Linked DNA regions of Homo sapiens. The protein of the gene in region 1 purifies or fractionates together with the protein of each later gene. This does not show direct contact. Each region holds a gene or a part of one and is shown in the gene's direction. Other genes may lie near its edges.

Region 1 (3,500 bases):
GAGTTTCTGTCTTCAACTCTGACTTCTACCCTGTAGTCTAGTGTCCTGTATCCCACTGCAAAGTTCTTTCTTCTTGGATGTCTGGTAGGCACCTCAGATTTAACGTGCCCAGCCCCCACACACACACAAAACTTGCAGTTAGTTTTTTCCATTCTAATAAATGACATTACCATCTGTCCCCTTGCTTAAGTTAAACCTTTGGAGTCATCCCTGATTGTTCTTTCGTGTCACATGGCTAATTGATTAATTAGCAAGTTCCATGGGCTCAAATTTAAAGACATATTTAATGTAATCCGGCTGCTGTTTTCCATCTCTACTACTTCCAGCTTAGACCAAGCCAACATCTTCTCTCATCTGGACCACTGCATTAGCTTTCCAGCTGATCTCACAGCTTTCAGTCTTGCCCCACCCGCCAACACTACAGCCAAAGCAGTCCTTCAAAAATGTAAATCAGAGTATGTCTGAAGCTTGCTTGAAAACTTTCCAGTGGCTTCTCATCACACTGAGGAAAAAGTCCAAACTCCTTTCCCTGGCCAGGAAGGTCCTCCATGGCCCTACATTTCAGCCTCTGATCCCCAGCCTGATAACTCACATGCCAGAGTTATTCTTGTTGGTCCCTCTTCCTGGCACGCTCCTCCTTAGCCTTTCACATGGCTGGCCTCTCTCACATAGTCCCTCTTCATATTCTGAGACCACTTTCTGAAGTTACCTCATTTCTCGCTTCACTTGTATTTCCATGACCTTGTTTTATTTTTCATTATAGTACTATGGCTATTGAAATTATATACCTGTCTGTTCTTGCCTACTAGAATAGCATAAGGCTTCATGAGAACAAGGACTGTGTCTGTCTTGTTTCCCACTATAGCCCAGAGACATACTACATTGGACGTATATATTAAGTACTAAATAAATGTTCACAGAAAGCATGAATTTAAAAATTAAGGATAGATTATGAGAAAAGAAAAAAGTTCTAGAGCCAAGACATTGCTTTTTTTTTTTTTTTTTTTTTTTTTTTTTTTTTTTTGGGACAGAGTATTATCTCTCTGTTGCCCGGGCTGGAGTACAGTGATGCAATCGCCACTCACTGCACGCAACCTCCGCCTCCTGGGTTCAAGTGATTCTTATGCCTAAACCACCCAAATAGCTGGGATTATAGACCCACACTGCCACGCCCAGCTAATTTTTGTATTTTTAGTAGTGATGGGGTTTCGCCATGTTGGCTAGGCTGACGGTCTCAAAGTCCTGACCCCAATTGACCTGCCTGCCTCGGCCTCCCAAAGTGCTGGGATTATGGGCCTGAGCCACCACACCCGGCCAGCACTGCTTTCTAATAGAAAAAGAAACAACTTGGAAGAAATTAGAAGAAATGCAGTATGTTGAACCAAAACATAGCAAAGGATTATTAGAAGGGCAGCTGATGCTGGATAAAGGAAAAGATATTATGCATCAACCACCTCATAGTGCTGGAGCAGTAGTTTGAGGGTTGAAGGAACAGTGAGGATTTAACTAGAAATATAATCTTAGTACTCAAGACCTAGAAAAAAGAGAATGATAGTCTGCCACCAGATTGGTTTCCCTTAACTCTTTAATTTGTATCTTCAAATTCTCTCTCACCTAGCCTGGCCAACATAATGAAACCCCATCTCTACTAAAAATACAAAAATTAGCCGGGCATGGTGGCGCATGCCTGTAATCCCAGCTACGTGGGAGGCTGAGGTAGGAGAATCGCTTGAACCTGGGAGGAGGTGGTTGTAGTGAGCCAAGATCACACCACTGCACTCCAGCCTGGGTGACAGAGCGAGACTCCGTCTAAAAAAAAAAAATTCTCTCTCACTCTTTCACTGCGCACTTGAACTCTGTTCTGGCCTGTCCTGGACTGGGTAAATGACAAGTAGGCAAAAACCAGGACTTGGAGTATAGACCAGGATATGGCAAACTACAGCCACAAGCCAAATCCAGCCTGCCACCTGTTTTTGATAGCCTAAAAGCTAAGAATGGTTTTTACAGTTTTAAATCATTGGAAAGCAAAATATTTCATGATAATGTGAAAATTATGTGAACTTAAATTTTAGTGTCCATAAATAGTTTATTGGAACACACCTATCCTTTTTTGTTTACATATTATCTGTGCCTGCTCTCGTGCTACAATAGTATCATTGAGGAGCTGCGACACAGATGGTCTGTCTGACCCACAAAGCCTACAATCTTTACTATCTTGCTCTTTATAGAAAAAGTTTTCCAGCATCAGGTATACACTTGGCAAATGACTCTTCCTTTCGTATCCTTGGAGGATGATTGATGAAGGAATCTGATATAGCCAAAGATATGTAGGCCATTTTTCTTTGTGATAAAAATTATTTCTTCTCTTTTTACAGCAATTCAATTAAACCCCAGCTATATCAGGGCAATATTGAGGAGAGCAGAGTTGTATGAGAAGACGGACAAGCTAGATGAAGCCCTGGAAGACTATAAATCTATATTAGAAAAAGATCCATCAATACATCAAGCAAGAGAAGCTTGTATGGTAAAACCTAAAATTTTAAAAATATTTTTCCTTCTATTCTTTGTGTTGCTACCCAGTGAGTCCTAAATAATCCTTTCAGACACAATTAAATTCCATTTCTGTGCTTTTGAGGAGCTTATCAAGATATATGGGAGGCCAGGCGCAGTGGCTCTTGCCTGTAATCCCAGCACTTTAGGAGGCCAAGGAGGAGAGATCACTTGAGGCCAGGAGCTCGAGACCAGCCTGGCCAACACAACAAAACCCCATCTCTTCTAAAAATACAAAAAATTAGCCGGGTGTGGTCGTACACATCTGTAATCCTAGCTACTCGGGAGGCAGGAGAATTGCTTGAACCCAGAAGGCAGAGGTTGCAGTGAGCTGAGATCATGCCACTACACTGCAGCCTGGGCAACAGAGAGGATCATTGAGCCCAGGAGTTGGAGGCTGCAGTGAGCTGTGACTACATCACTGCATTCCATCATGGGCAACAGAGTAAGACTTTGTATCTTAAAAACAAACCAACAGGCTGGGTGCAGTGGCTCACGCCTGTACTCCCAGCACTTTGGGAGGCCGAGGAGGGCGGATCACCTGAGGTCGGGAGTTCGAGACCAGCCTGACCAACATGGAGAAACCCTGTCTCTACTAAAAATACAAAATTAGCTGGGTGTGGTGGCACATGCCTGTAATCCCAGCTACTCGAGAGGCTGAGGCAGGAGAATCGCTTGAACCCAGGAGGTGGAGGTTGCAGTGAGCTGAGATTGCGCCACTGCACTCCAGTCTGGGCGACAGTGTGAGACTCTGTCTTAAAAAAACAAAAAATACAAATGAATTTAAAAAAAAGTTAAAAATACAAATATAGCACTGTAAACATCTGATATGTATCCTTTCAAACTTTTTTCTGTATATATTTATTTGTTAAATTTGTATTGATGCCCTCCTTTAGTGTAGACTTTCTATTAAGAACTGGAAACAGAGCCAAACAAAACTTTTTTTTTTT
Region 2 (3,500 bases), on another chromosome or scaffold:
TTAGCACAATTATTTAAGTAAGCTGTTTTTTCCTTTCTTTTCTTTCTTTTCTTGTTTTAACTTCTGGGTGAGGTTAAGATTTTCTAATAGTTATTGTTGTTGCCAGAGAAGCATAGAATTCTGCTTGTGTCTTAGGGTTAGAGAAAGATTTGTTATATTTTGAGGTAATTTGGAAGGACTTTCATACATGGTGACTAGAAACCTGATCTTTTTAAGAATAAAATAGGGTCACTATTTACATTATATATAATATATGGCTATTATAGCTATATTAATCTACTTTAATTGTTTCTAAGATTATTTTGTGTAAGTCAGCTAGCGTGTGTATAGTGTCATTTCTTATGTTTTGTATATTAACGTTTTACAAACACAATTTGTGTGGGTTTGTAGCATTTCTTATAGTTTAAAGTATGATTCAGCATTCTAAGTTAAAACTAATATGTGAAGTCAGTCATTAGTCTGCATAATCTCTGTCTCCCTCTGTGTGTGTCTTTCTATAAAGCACATGTGTACACACACACACACAAATATACTGAAAGCTAGGGTAAGTTCTAAACTGAATATCAAAAACCAAAATCAAGAACAAAGAAGTGATATTTTCCAAACAAACATGGATTCTCTGCCGGGTGCAGTGGCTCAGCCTGTAATACCAGCCTCCACTTTGGGAGTCTGAGGTGGGAGTATTGCTTGAGCTCAAGAGTTGGAGAACAGCCTGGGCAACATGGTGAGACCTGGTCTTTACAAAAATTTTTTTGGCCGGACGCAGTGGCTCACACCTGTAATCCCAGCACTTTGGGAGGCCGAGGCAGGTTGATCATGAGGTCAAGAGATCGAGACCATCCTGGCCAACATGGTGAAACCCCGTCTTTACTAAAAATACAAAAATTAGCTGGGAGTGGTGGCGTGCGCCTGTAGTCCCAACTACTTGGGAGGCTGAGGCAGGAGAATCGCTTGAACCCAGGAGGCGGAGGTTGCAGTGAGGCGAGATCACGCCACTACACTCCAGCCTGGCGACAGAGCAAGACTCTCTCAAAAAAAAAAAAAAAAAATTTTTTTTTTAAATGGGCTGGGCATGGTGGCTTGTGCCTGTAGTCTCAGCAACTTGGGAGGCTTAAGTAGTAGGATCGCTTGAGCCTGGGAGGTTGAGGCTGCAGTGAGCTGTGATTGTGCCACTGTGCTTCAGCTTGAGTGACAGAGTGAGACCCTCCTGACTCAAAACAAAAAACATGGTTTCTCCTCTCTCTCCTGTCTTCTTACTCTCTATCCCATTTGATGTAGTGATTTTTAAATGCTTTTGTAAGTTAATTCTTAACACAAAAGAGACATTGTAATGAGGCACACCACTAAAGTGAGCATGCCCAATTAAAACCAGTGTAATATAGGATAAGAAAATCTGATTTTTCAAAAAAGATACTCTACATAAAGAATCCTTCATATAAAAAGTTCTTTCTTGTAGTACATTTAAAGTTTTAATTCACTCATGTATAACTGAGAGTTCCTTTGAGCCCTTTTTAGGCAGGGAGGCATGTCTGTCATCTAGCGTGTGGCCCAGTAAGTGATTATTACATTGGAATCAGTTTTTCAGTCTTTTAAAATAAATTCTGTGCCATAAGAATAAAAGATAAAGAGAAAAATTAATGTTAACTATTTTTAGCTTATTATAACTATGTCAACAAGTGTTTATTAATACCTATTATGGGAAAGTCACTGTGGTTGGCATTGAAAATTACATCATCTTTAAAGCAGTATTTGTCCCCAGATGGACTCATCACTAGCAAAGACTAGGTTCATTGGAAGGCATAGGGTGAGAGAATGGGAAGATGAAGTGGAGGCGGGTTGTTAAAGTGCTGTCAGTGAGTGATTTTGTCTACTTGAATAATGGTCCATGTTTGGGGGCATATTGTGTTTCATAAGAAGTGAAAGGTATTTGCAAAGTAAGCTACAAATGACCCATAAATCTGTTAACAACAGTCCTTAATATGCAAAGATGAAAAACAAGCATTACTGCTACCCAAAGGGAACTGGTGCTTGGTGATGTGCAGATGGGGCTGTTGGTTAAGAGAGCTATTACAGGTTTTCTCTCTTAGGTTTCATAGGAGGTAGTTACTGAGATGAGATTGTTTTATCTTTTTGAATACAGATCTCTTGTCTTGAGTTAGTTCTGAGGATGGGAGTAATAAAGGAGTTTTTTGTTTTTTTGTTTGTTTGTTTGTTTTGGCTCCTTAGTAATACTCCTCTGACATTTATTTCTATTATTCTTCAAAGAAAGGAAACCAACTGAAATGTTTGCTTTAACAAACATTTTAATAAGTTCTCTGGGTTTTTTTTTCCCCTTTTAAAAAAATTAGCATATACCATAGCAATAAAAGAACTAATGTTAACTATTGTATGCTACAACTTAAGTGATTTTTCTAAAGAAGCACAATGTCATTGAAAGTATTATTGAAAAGGATCATAGTCACATTGAATTTGTGAAGGCCAAAGAAATTGAAGGGAGTGATATTTTCATTTTATGATATTCACATATTTAGTAAATTTTGTGTACAAGAATACCAGGCAGAGTGTTTTACCCATGGAAACAGGTTTCAGATTACTTTATTTTTACTGTTAGAGTCTCAAGTTTAGAAATGCTAACACTTAAATCAGTTTTTTTCTCACTATACTTGAAGATTGTTAATATTTTGATATCTTCCTAGCTTGATGAATTTAAACATATCTTCAGATCTGTGACAGTGACAGCCAATAGGACTGATAATATTAGCTTCAAACCAATAATATCCAGGGTTAAAATAAAAATCATAGTGAAAGTACGATTGTAAAATTATGCTATATTAACTTTTAAGTCTGTAATAACTTGACATCAAAATGTTATGTAATTACCATAAATAATGGCTAGCGAGAACATCTTTGGAAATTCTCAAATTACCTTTCTTACTACACTGTTTGCAGAATGAATGTAGAAATGATCCTGTTAGCTTTCTGAATGTTCTGTGGTTGAATGTGTTTTTGCTTAAATAAAGCTTTTGGTATTTGTTTAAATTACACTTCTTGAGAAGTGGAAATTTTAGGATCATCTTTGCTTTGTTTCAGTTTTGTGATTTTTGAAATGAATGTTTAGTTTACTGAGCCAGTTGGTCATTTCTTCCTCATGTCGTTAAGTCCAGTGAGTAAGCCTGAACTGTGAATAAATTACCAAAAACTTGCTTAGAATTTCATTTTGAAGCAATTTGCTAATATTTGAAGTGTATACACATTTGTAGTTATGTTAGAAATTGTATTGTACTAAGAATGTAATCAATGTCTACTTTAGTTGTAAACATTTCTGATGTCAAAACTTTATTCATTACTGTTGATTTTAAGAATAAGAAATCACTGCCTAAATATTACCAAAAGCCACTGTCTCTACCCGAACTTCCCAGTTTGGGAAAGAATCGTTAGATAAAACAAAGGCTCTGCCCTTTCTGATACCAAACTCCACAGATACTTTCTCACATCTTTTA
Region 3 (3,500 bases), on another chromosome or scaffold:
AAGAAGCTTTTCTCTGGCTTGATTTTCTCTAACTTCCTGGAGCACAGTAGGATACAGAGAAACCAGAGATTTGCCCAAGGTCAGAAGAAATCAGAGCTAGGTTTGGAACTTAATGTTAGGAACTGGGAGGCCTGTGCCAGTTCATCATCTTCTCTTCCTCCTGTTATTGTTTTAGAGCACCTCCCTCCAACCCTCACCCTGCCTCCTCCTTTTCCCATCCCTTTGCATTGGGCCAGCCTTTTTCTCTTCCGTGATACTCTCTTTCATTACTCTTCTTGATAGTTGACCAGCAGTGACATTGCATTTTATTACCTTTTTTTTCCCATACAGAATAGTGGAGACAGGGAGCAGAATTTTTCTCAGACTTAGGCAAGTTAATTTGACTGAAATAGTATACTCGTGAGTAAAGCGTGACTTTTAGGGAACAGATGGGCCCAGGAAAAGACTAAATAAGATATTGGATGTTTTTACACATTATTAATATTTATCCACCAGGTGGGCATTAGCTAGAAAGATATGCCTGAGATGGTCATCAATAGGCCTTGCTTAAACCAACACGAGCTTCTGAAAAGTTGTATGTAAATAAATAATCTAAATGGAAATGTTATTATTTAAACAAGTGGGTGAACTTTTAGGTAAAATAAAGATGTATTTGTGTAGCAAATCTGCATCCTTCAGTTTGCCTGTTTTCTATTCTTTTTGTGTGTGTGTTTGCATTCTTAGAGTGCATTGAGTGACATTGAGGTCCATTAATGTTATAGAGATTATTTTAACAATTTTTCAACAAGCATTAATATTGCATTGTCTTTAGTGTTAATTGATAACAAAAACAGAGCAGTTGTTGAGGAAAATGATGATACATTTAATTCCGGAATTATATGAATGATACAGGATTGCTTTAGATCTTGTTTTTCTCTAATATCCCTGCTGCAAGTCCTCTATTTCCAAGGGTTTAAAATGTACCTCAGTGCTTCTTTGTGACAGTGTGTCATTTTTATTTCCCACTGCTTCAAGGTCATGATATACCCATGAATAGCATATATATACATGATAGCAGTAGCTAGGTATCCTGAAGGACCTCATTGTTTATCCTTCCAGTGGCTTGGAATTGAAAGACTAATCTATTTGATAAGTAATTTGATGGGTGACTAAACTTGTTTATGGTGCTTATTTTTTTAGATTTCTCAAAAGTGAGTATTTGAAGAGGAGTCATCACAGCATGGTGATGGAGTGCAGGCTTTGCTGGCAGCTCTTGAGTCCTGCCTCTGACTCTCACTGGTAGCATGGCTCCTCATTACGGAATCTAGCCTCACTTGGCCTCAGTTCCTTCATCTGCAAAATAGGGATTGCAGACTTCACCTTTTAATCTGTGTGTGAGTTCTGAGTAAGATGGTATCAAGTGCCTGGTCCATAGTATGCATTCAATAACTGATTGCTCTTAATTTAAATCTTTTATTTAGACTGGACATTTTTTGAGTGTTTTAAAAACAAAAGTAAGTTGAGGCAGATGGTAATGCGTATTTGCAAATTCTTTTCGTGAATGTTGGAAAATTACAGTTGCATCAAAATACTTACTTGTAGATAAGGCTAATAGAATATATTTGAGCCTTCTTTAAAGAAAGCATTGCCCACATTCGTTAAATGCATTATCACAATGTGTTCTTTTTTTTTTAAACCAATATATACAAAGTGAACCCAGTTTGTATACTCTTCCCTTCCAAGAGTTCCAAAGCAGTTTTTATCATTTCATTAATCCTTCGAATTTCTGTGAGAAGATAGCAAAAGCATGTTTTGTTTACTTTAATTTAGAAATAAAAAAGATTAAGCTGGAAAAAAGTTGGGTGACATACTGGGGTCACATGGTGAGTACTAGAAATTAATGAACAAAATAGACTTAATAACAGATAATAGAATTAAAATGAATTTTTCTGACATTATTTTTAGTTTTCTCCTAGAGAATATATTTTAAGGAAGATATTTGATGCTGTGATATAAAGTAAACCATTCTTAGCATATTCCTTTTCTTTTGGAAATGTTAGATGAAATTGCAGGCAAAGATGGTGTAGAAGGGGGAAAAACAATTGAGGAAGTCTAGTTGGCGAAGCAGGACTACTTAGCAAGAGTATGGTCTGAGCCCAAGGAAACCATCTACAACCAAGTGTTCAGGAGGTAAGGTGTAATTAGATCTTAAAAGAAGTACCAACATTTTTGTAGTAGATGTTGAAATAATACCAAATCACTCTTTTTTCCAGTGGAAAGATTCATATTCTGATTTGATTGACATTCCCATAACTTGTTAACCATCAGTTTTAGCTCTGAGCTAGTCAGCTGGTTCTGTTTGGAATTACATTATTTTTAAGTTACTAGATATACCTCAGAAGCTTTGAAAAGAATAGCTTTGGGTTTCTTATCTAGTGGAGGTTTAGAACCCTGTATATGTGTGTCTGTTTATGTTTTCTGGTTAATAAAACTAAGACCCATTCTCTTCATATTTTGAAAAGAGGGGCAAAGGCTTGCAATTATTTTTATAGATCCTAGCATTCATGGTTCTGAGTCCTACTACCAGGACAGCAACAATTGTGTGGTGAGATTTCTGCATTCTCATCTAAATACCGATAGAACGACCTGCATACTGAAGTCCTTGTAAATTCAACTTAAGAAACTTTAGCCTGTTTATTTAATCCTAAAAACATATCATGTAAAATGTGTATGTGTGGGTACTTGATTTGAATTATGTACTTTGAAAGTTACATATTCTCTTAGGGCTTTGTTTTTTTTTTTTTTTCCTCAGAGTAAGTTAAGAAGGGAAGTGGCAGAAGGATCATGAGTTCCTTGCTTGCAGAGTAAGTGGGGAGATGAGAAGGAGGAAGCAATGCTTTTGTGAGTGTCCACCAGATTGTAGGGACATACGAAGAGAAAAGACTGGTAAGGTTCAACCACTGTGAGAATTAGGAGTATTTGTGAATGAGTTAGTCTGGGGTGGCTTTGGTTCTCTCCTGCTCCCTGTGGCAGGTGGTCCCTGCATATTTGTTCAAAGTGTGCCACAGGTAAGCAAGGTAGCATGCCAAGAACAGTGAGAGCTGGGTTTAGTCTGGCCTCTGCTGTCATCTGCTGGTCTTCTCAGCTCTATCTGTCTGATTTAGAGGCCCCTCCTTGGTGGCCCTTGTTAATATTTCACTGCACAGGAATCTACCGAACAGTTGGTTGCCTCCTCTGTCTGCTCAACTATTTGCAGCTTCCACGAAGCCAGGAGCTGTGTCTCCTTTATCATTTTCCGTAGTGCAGTGCCGGCATATGGCAGGAGCTAACTGAATGAATCAGCTACTTGACTCTGTACAAGCCATTTATCTAAGCTGAAACATACCTTTGTCATCAATAAATTGGTTGAGAATAGTTGAGTGGGCTTGGATTAGAACGGTTGTTGTTTTTTGAGACAGAGTCTCGCTCTGTCGTCCCGGCTGAAGTGCAGTGAGTGGCATGATCTCAGCTCACTGCAACCT
Region 4 (3,500 bases), on another chromosome or scaffold:
TTGAGTGTTTGATCAAATTCTTATTGAGATTACAGCCTGTGCAAAATATTTGTGATGCATTTTTAAGTTTACTTAAGTACACTTTGAAATTCTTTAAAAATTTTAAAATCTTTAAAAGGACACAAGAGTGTACCACATTGAGATTAAAATGTGTTTATTATTAATTTGTACATAATACTATAACAAATAATTGTTCTCAGGTATGTTTAAGGCCTTATTTTAAAAGTTGATTCTTCAATTTCTAATTTAAAATAAGCTTTTAGTTTTTCTCAACTATGTATATGTAATGATTATAGATGCCTAGAGTAGTGTTTCCCAGACAACTAGAACCACACACAAATTAGTACCACCAAAAAAAAAAAAAAAAAAACTTCATGAAGAACAGGGATTACTGGTCAAAAAATACGAGAAACACTTCATTTCTGTTAGGAGTATATTAAAGGCTTTTGAGAAGACCACTAGTTAAATGTGTTTTCCAAACTTGATCACAAAACTCAACTATAATATCTATAAAGTTAGTCCATAGCACAAACATGCTTAAATTTGTTGGATAAATGCATAAACTGTGAAGACATAAACACACTTTGGCAACTGCTGGTCTCTTTAAGAGATGGAATCTACCTTTTAGCTACCAATAAATTCCATACCACATTTCATTGATTTAAAAAACACATCTTTTTAAACATCTCTGAAATAGATCAGGGGAGGCTTGCTATCACTGTTGGCCAAATGGCTTTCACTTAATTGTCTAGGTAACATCATCTACACTTAATTATTATTTCCTAATGACATAATTGGACTATTGCAATCCTTGAGCTTTAAATCAGCAAATCATTACAGAGGAATGTAAGGAATACAAGCCTTGGTTGTTACCTGAAAATCTTCGGTAGGCACCTCCCATTAAACACAGAGAGCATCTGTTCAGATCTTGCAATTTCTATGGAGAAATTTTAGGAATAATCTCATCAGTTTATTTTGCATGTACTTTTTGCTGTTCAAGAGAATTATAAATGACAAAATTGATGGATAAGTCCTAAAGAGTAAACATTGATCTGGGCATAAATTGACAGTGGTTTTTCATTTTTGTAATGTATAATATAAGGTACACTTTTATAATTAATGGTGTCCTAAATACAATCAAAAGCACTGTTTATAATACAGGGTTTTTTTTTTACAGATAAAGCATATGATATAGTCCAGTTGACCCTTGAATAACGTGGGAGTTAGGGGTTCCAACCCCCTGTGCAGTTGAAAATCTGCATAAAACTTTTTTATTTCTCAAAAACTTTACTAATAGCCTACTGTTGACTGGAAGCCTTACTGATAACACAGACAGGCGATTAATATGTATTTTGTTATGTGTATTATATACTGTATTCTTACAATAACGTTAAAGAAAAAATACTAAGAAAATCATAACAGAAAGTATATTTACTATTCATTAAGTGGAAGTGGACCATGGGAAAGGTCTTAATCCTTGTCTTGTGTTGAATATACTGAGGAGAAGGAAGAGGAAGGGTTGGTCTTGCTGTCTCAGGAGTAGCGGAGGCAGAAGAAAATCTGCATATGTCATTCAAGGGTCAGCTGTACTTTCCTTGATAGTTTCACTTATTCTAAAAGATTAATCCTACTTTAGAATTATAGAATTGGTATTTGTACCCCATTCTTGCTAATTATCTTATAGTTTTGTGTGTGTGTGTGTGTGTGTATATATATATATATTTTTTTTTCCTTCTATTTAGTTTAAAGTTCCTGCTGCAACAAGTGCAATTATTACCAATGGTAAGAATTCACTATAAAATTATGTATTACCTCAAATTTATAGAAATGGTGTAAAAGGAACCAAATTAATTAAAATTAAATACAAAAAGCCCCAAGTATATGTATATCAACATAAATGATATACTTACTGGTAAACACTAAGTCAGGGTTATTGTTAATAATTAGCTCCTTTCATTTCTTTGTATATAGCTTTTGATATAGTATAGCACTTTATAATATCTTTTGTCCTTACCAGTTCATGCCAGATTATAACTGAAAATAACTTTATTTAGCAAGTTTTTTTTTTTATTAAGTAAAGTTGTTTGGTAAATGCTTTAGAATATAGAAAGTTAAGCAGGAATGTATCTTTGCTATACCTTTCCTGATAGAAAATTGTTTCTTGTAGGCTTGCAATAATGAGAATTTTATTCCGTTTTAGGTATATAATTAAAAATCTTAATATCTTGGAACACTGATAATCAATGATGATGGAATTAGTCTTGTGAGAAAATAGTGAAATAATAAGATGAGGAGTAAAGATTGCAGGGAGGGCTTAACTGTGTTTCAAGTATACAATGCAGTATTGATGAGTGCTGATGCGTTGCCCAAGTGCAGTTTGGACAGGAGATGGGCTTAATGTGCGTGATGTAACTTAGATAAGGTAGAATTTCTCACTCTAAAATATTCTGCATTCTGTCACATTGAAGTGTTTCTCTGTTGGAAAAAAGCTGGCTTACTACCTGGAAAGTTTTAGGTCATAACTTAGTAACGTGTTGAACTAAATGACTTTGTGAGCTCTCCCAGCCTTAAGATATTATGACCTAGAACAATACGAAGATGATTCATGGCATACCTAAGGGGCTTTTTAGTTTTTTGGAAGAAAGGACAAACATTATTTTTAATTCTATATGGCAAAATAGAATTAATAACCTATATTCCATAGAACTTACCAGGATCATTGCATTGACAGACGTTTTTGTCTAACCCAGCAATGTGTATGAATGCAGAATAATAGTAGATTTCAACAGATAATTTACCTGAAAGATTGTCACTCGTGTTCTTGGATTTAAAGTGTTTGGCTTATGTCTATATACACAACAGCACTATTTTGGCAAATCTCTTTCCTTGCTACTATTTAACCATTTTAGCTTTAGAAATAATGTATGTGATTTTACAACTTATTTTCTAGATGGAATAGGAATAAATCCTGCACAGACTGCTGGTGAGTATTTGAAAACTCATAGAGGAGTGGGTGGGGTTATATATGTCAATTGACACTGAATAGTTAAGCTATTCTAATTACACTTGACAGTATTTTAACATAATGGAGCTGTTTTTTAGGGATTATATACCAGTCTTTACCTGTGTGTCTGAGTAATAAGTTGTTTCATTGTGTATATTGATTGTAGATGTTTTTGGCTACAAGTAACAGAAAACCTAATAGTGGCTTAAGCATTAAGAGTATTTATTATATATAACAAAAAGTCTGTAGATAAGATTGCTTTCTAATTGGAGTATTTTTTGACCTACCTCTTAAGGTAGTTGTGAGATAGTGACTGTAAAGTGCTTCATAGCTTGGATTATTTATAGAAAGCATTCATTAAGTGCTATTATTTTTTTTAAATATAGTCATTTACATTTCAAGGGGCTGAGTCTACATTCAGATCTTCAAACTGTTAAATTTATACAGGTGATATATTGGTGTCCTGACCAGGAGACAGGGTAAAAGTAGTCTCATA

Evidence for each region.
Region 2: the proteins of TTC1 (region 1) and GFPT1 fractionate together in Homo sapiens (co-fractionation; one large-scale study listed by BioGRID). This does not show direct contact.
Region 3: the proteins of TTC1 (region 1) and DNM3 purify together in Homo sapiens (affinity purification with a luminescence readout; one large-scale study listed by IntAct). This does not show direct contact.
Region 4: the proteins of TTC1 (region 1) and UFM1 fractionate together in Homo sapiens (co-fractionation; one large-scale study listed by BioGRID). This does not show direct contact.

Annotation. Positions count from the first base shown.
Region 1 is NC_000005.10:160,047,139-160,050,638, forward strand, and holds part of TTC1 (tetratricopeptide repeat protein 1), read left to right. Parts: intron 1-2,375; coding exon 2,376-2,524; intron 2,525-3,500.
Region 2 is NC_000002.12:69,321,228-69,324,727, reverse strand, and holds part of GFPT1 (glutamine--fructose-6-phosphate aminotransferase [isomerizing] 1), read left to right. Parts: 3' UTR 1-3,500.
Region 3 is NC_000001.11:171,847,998-171,851,497, forward strand, and holds part of DNM3 (dynamin-3), read left to right. Parts: intron 1-3,500. UniProt on the Homo sapiens protein: Microtubule-associated force-producing protein involved in producing microtubule bundles and able to bind and hydrolyze GTP. Most probably involved in vesicular trafficking processes, in particular endocytosis.
Region 4 is NC_000013.11:38,356,351-38,359,850, forward strand, and holds part of UFM1 (ubiquitin-fold modifier 1), read left to right. Parts: intron 1-1,742; coding exon 1,743-1,782; intron 1,783-2,950; coding exon 2,951-2,983; intron 2,984-3,500. UniProt on the Homo sapiens protein: Ubiquitin-like modifier which can be covalently attached via an isopeptide bond to lysine residues of substrate proteins as a monomer or a lysine-linked polymer.